Linked DNA regions of Homo sapiens: region 2 is linked to region 1. Evidence: fine-mapped expression QTL. Tissue or cell type: whole blood. Region 1 holds a variant in brackets; the other region holds the start of a gene. All regions are shown on one strand. Distances are between the middles of the regions.

Region 1 (2,674 bases):
TTTAAAGAAAAATGCCCCTGGACTCAGAAATGCTCTAATTCATAGTGCGTTGTAATTGACCAATAACACATCTGTGTTAGTTTCCTATTGTTGCTGAAACATACTGCCACAAACTTGGTGGCTTAAAACAACACAAATGTGAGGTGCGGTGGCTCATGCCAGTAATCCCAGTACTTTGGGAGGCTGAGGAGGGCAGATCACTTGAAGTCAGTAGCTCAAGACCAGCCTGGCCAACATGATGAAACCCCATCTCTACCAAAAATACAAAAATTAGCCAGGTGTGGTGGCATGCACCTGTAGTCAGTCCCAGCTCCTCGGGAGGCTGAGGCACAAGAATCACTTGAACCCGGGAGCAGAGGTTGCAGTGAGCCGAGATTGCACCACTGCATTCCAGCCTGGGCGACAAGGCGAGACTCCCTCAAAAACAAAACAAAACAAAACAAAACAACACAAAACAAAAAATGCAAATGTATTGCATTTATGGAGGTCAGGAGTCTGACATGAGTCTCACTGGGCTAAAGTCAAGGTAATGGCAGTCTTGCTGTCCATTCTGGAGGCCGTAGGGGAGAATCCATTTTCTCACTTTTTCCAGGTTCTAAAGGCTGCCCACGTTCTTTGGTTTGTGGCCCCTTCCATCTTCAAAGTCAGCAATGGCTGCTGGAGTTTCATATCACATCACTCTGACCTTGACTGTTCTGCCTCCCTCCTTCACTTATAAGGACCCTTGTGATTACATTGGTCCTAACTAGATAAACCAGGATATTCTTGCCATTACATGATCAGCTGACTAGCAATGCTAATTCTATCTTCGGCCTTAATTTCTTCTTGCCATTAACATCTCAAACATATTCACAGGTTTTGGGGACTATGGCATGGACATCTTTGGGGGCCATTATTCTGCTTACCACAAGTTCCTTCCTTAGAACTTTCTTTGCAGGGATTCGGGGAGAAGAGAGAGGTAGCTAGAAAATACCGGGGCATCATAATAAGAGGAACTAGGGAAGCTCAAAGCATCAGAGCAATCATCCCAACTTCCTGAACCCCAAGATGACTCCACAATTTGGAGACCTGTTGTCATTTTGTCCTTACCTCTCAGTTCACCCCAGGAGTATTTAAATTTCATCTGTTTGGTGGGGAGTGGATTCTCATTATATACAGATAATATGTGTTTCAGAAAACAAAGCAAAGGGCCTTTTCCCCAGGGCAGGTAGACAGTGCTCCTAAATTAGTGGTTTTCAAAGTACAAGTCACAATCCACTAATGACTCTAATGAGTCCTGAGATGAGTTTAGTGGGTGAGGGAGAGAGAAAGAGAGAGAGAGAGGAAGAAGAAGAAAGGAAGAAGAGGAGGAAAAGAAAGAAGAAAAGGAGGGAAAAAGGAAGGAAGGAGGGAAGGAAGGGAGAGAGGGAGGAAAAGAATAAAGAAAAAAGAAATAAAAGTATATGGAATAGAAAATATTGTGACACAGCCATCACATGTTTTGAGGCTAAATATTGTTGCAATTCTACCTACACCCGTGTGCATTGGCTTATGGTATAAGATGTATTTTTATAG[T/C]AAGACAGTCTGAGCCAGAGGGGCCCACAGGGCAACTGCAGATGTTTGCATGGAGGGGTTCCCCCCCTCAGAGGAGCTGCCCCTAATCTGTATTGAGAAAGATGAATCTGCTTATCTGTGTGGAAGCTTTCAAAAGGACTTGAGGGGACTGAAAAGGGGGAAAGGATGGGAATGTGGAGCAAGGAGATCAGATCAGAAGAGGAAGAGATGAGAGTTCAAAAGGAAAAAATTAAAGTGAAATGAAATTAAGAACATTAGTCATGTGAGACAAGAACAAAAATAGTAGACTCTGACAAGAAATCAGCCAGGAAGATAGGCCCAGACTCAAATGCTTTCTTGAGTGAAAGAACAAAGGGGAGAAAATCTAAACCCCAAACCAAAACAACCCTGCTTTCGTGTTCCTTCTTGCATCCACTGAGCCAAACCTCCAGCTGCCTCATGCCGCTGCAGGCACTTGTGGCAAAAGCACACATGAACCACGCTGGACATCAGAGGCTTGTGGGTGCCTAGGGGCCTTGTGACCTCCAGCTACCCTGAGCTGTGAAATCAGAGCTGAAGGAAGCAAATGTGACAAGACCTGGTCTGAGCGATGGGCGGGGAGGTGGACTGACAATGCTCAGCCCCCCTGGGAGGTTCATGTTTAATGCCTGCTGAACACCCCATGTCCTTGACCCAGACTCTCAACTCATCACGAACTCAGCTGCAACAACAATTGAGCACAGGGAATGAACAGGTGTCACGATCCTGTTATGAACAGGGAGAAACTGGGTCTCAGAGGAGTCCAGGAAATGGCCAGGATCAGTAAGAAAAAAAAGAAATAAAAGTACGTGGAATAGAAAATATCATGGCACAGCCATCACATGTTTTGAATCAGTAAGTGACAGGACTGTGACTCAAGATGCCCTCTGAACTCCATGCAGGGCTCTTTTCACCACAACAGGGACTTCCAAAGCATATGTTTGGAGGAGACTGACCCATGCTGATCACACAGAGAGACCGTACTTGCCATTTATGCCACAGGCTTCTATGCCCCCACCTCTCGCCAAGTCCCTACTCTAAGGTTTGGACGGTCACTCCGTAGAGGTGAGGTACGTAGGATACATTTGGTGGGAGGTGGGAA
Region 2 (2,500 bases), 69 kb after region 1:
AGCCTCTCTAGTTAAGCGACCTGCGTTCCGACTTACCTCTGAGTGATGGGCCTACTGCAGAGCCCGCCTCCCACCACAGTGCTGGCCCAGAATTTTTTATACGAACTAGTTCGTAACTAAACGTTGGAAGCATCACCATATTGCCAGTGAGAAGTAAGATTTAAAAATAAAACGATGCTGTCCCTTTTCGCCCTTCCTTAGGACGTCTCCTCCTGCACTAAGGGTTCAGGTGAAGGGTGGAAACTGGCCAAGAAGAGGAAGAACGTGAAGGAGTAGGGGGCAAGGAGGAAAGGGCTCCCTTTACAGACTTTGGTGCCATTTTTACTTTCTGCTTGCTAATCTGAAACGTTGTGCGATTACAATGACGGCCCCTCTCCCCCTCGGGTACTAATTACCCCCGGGCCTTTTCCGGTGCACATCCCGGTGCTATATTCTGGTGCCTGTGTTGCCCCCACGCCCCCATTAAATTAGTAAAGGAAAACCACCCCTTTTCTGCCCCTAAAGTAATCTATAAACGAAGGAATACAGATGAGGATTTAAATCCCAATCCTAATTCCAAGGGAGGCTGGAAGCCCCCTCAGCCGCGCCCTGGCTTGGCTTTTTCATCTCGAGCGGTTGTGACGCCAGGGGCAGGTCTTCCACGTGTCTTCACAGAGGTGCCCGGAGGGAGGGCGTGAGGGATTACCCAAGGGAGGGGCGAGTATCGCAAAATAGGCCAAGTCGCTGCCCTCTACTCAACTCGCAGGGCGGGAGGATGGAGACAGAGGGATGCGGCGGGAGGGCGGGACAGCCCAGTCGCCGCCAAGGAGGCGAAGCGGGGTCGGGGTAGCTCACCCGCCCCCCGCAGTCCCCGCCCCCCGCAGTCCCCGCCCCGCGCGGCGCCGCGCACGCCTGAAGTCATTGCCCGAGGCCCCGCCCCCTCGCGGCCCCAGCCCCGGCTCTGGCTCTGCCGGCGGAGGGGGCGGAGAGAACCCGCAGCTGCAACTTCGCCTGGAGCCTTTGAGCCTGGGCTCAGCCGGGGATCTAGCAGCCGTCACCGCCGAGTCGCCGCTTCCCCGGCGCGGGCCTCAGCCCAGCCGGCTTGGCCATGGCAGGCGCCGGCAGTGCGGCGAATCTGGCCCCTGCGCTCCCCGCCCGTAGCTGAGCAGCCGTTAACCAGCCATCCCGCCTTTCCTCCTGCCCGTGTCGCCGAGGCCCACGCTCCGCGCAAGTTTCCGCCGCCGAAGAAGCAGGAGGACGGACGTGAGGAGTCGGGCGTCCCTGGCCCACCCGGCCCTCTCGCCCGCGATGTGGGGGCGCTTCCTGGCTCCGGAGGCCAGCGGCCGGGATAGCCCCGGCGGAGCCCGCAGCTTCCCTGCCGGTAAGGAACGGGACAGCGCCCCGGCTGGGGTGGGGGTCACGGCCGACCGCGGCGCCTCGGGACCTCGCCGCCGCTCCCCTCCCGCCTCAGGCCTGTCTTACCCCGGCCGCCTCCCCGACGCCGCCGCGTGCCCAGTGTCCTCCCCGCTGTCAGCACCCGGGCTGACATATGGCTTGCCGCGTCCCAGGCGCATCAGCCCCGCATCCCGTCGTCCCCGCCGCTCCTCCTTGGGCTGCAGCCCCAGCGCCCCCAACTTCCAGCTCGCTTGGGCCCCCGCGGGTTGGGCTTTATTGTCTGCCCGGTTTTTTCCTTTTACTCGTGGGGTGTGTGACCTGCGTGATAACGGGGCTTGCCCGTTTGCTCGCGGGGACCCGGGCGGGAAGGTCGCTGCGACAGTGCTGCGGCGGCGGCCCGGGCGCGTCTCGGAGGGGCCGCAGTTCCGCGCCCTCCCGACTTCTGGTAGGCGCAGGCTGGGGTTGGCTGTGCCCACGCCCGCAGCCGCTACTTTTAGGGCGCGTTTTCGGGAGGGAGGATGCTGCCAGAGATGCGGCCGCTCTCAGCCACCCCCAAGGGAACTTCAGCCCCTCGGAGGAACCTGGTCGCCGCCCCGCAGCCCCTGCGGCGTAAGAGGAGGGCGCGTCCTGCAGTAGCCAATGGACCATTGAGCAACCGGGTTACGAATCCGTTTGGCTTTCCGTGGCCCCTTCAAGGAAAATTAGGGGTTTGCTGCATTCCGTATCTGAAGGGGTCTGTTTGTATCGGACAGCCATTTCATGCTTGCGTCGCTCAGAAGTTGTGTAGGAGCCACAAAATTAGGATAAATCCTCCCCTAACTTGGGATAAAAAATAAGTCTTGGGTTGCCTGTGATATGTTCTCTAAAGATGATGGTCTTTCCAGGCACTTTTAATCTTGAGTTTTGAGGCCTTTTGAGAAACTGAGTTATATGGACATTCTGCGCAGAAAAAACAATGCCATATATACATACGCAAAATTTTCCCTACAATTTTAGCTGTTTCTGGGACTCCTGTTAAGTAACCTTGCTCCACAAAGTGTTTGAGCTCGACTTGTGTAACTTAGAGATATTTTTGCATACATTTCCAAAGCTGTTATTTACAAAACAAAAAAGCAGAAGCAGCATT

What was found. PIP is the estimated chance that this variant, and not a neighbour inherited with it, causes the effect.
Region 2: CEP85L starts here. The variant in region 1 is fine-mapped to the expression of CEP85L in whole blood (TOPMed, PIP above 0.99).

What each region holds. Positions count from the first base shown.
Region 1 is chr6:118,718,896-118,721,569 of GRCh38, reverse strand. No RefSeq gene overlaps it. Among named protein-coding and RNA genes, the nearest start is that of CEP85L, 69 kb to the right of the region's middle. RefSeq lists an enhancer at 1,527-1,576. The variant T/C (reference allele first, on the strand shown) is at 1,555.
Region 2 is chr6:118,650,057-118,652,556 of GRCh38, reverse strand. CEP85L (centrosomal protein 85L) reads left to right here and starts at 966. Exons shown (of 13, transcript NM_001042475.3): 1 at 966-1,360. The coding sequence starts at 1,288. RefSeq lists silencers at 613-1,072, 1,273-1,582.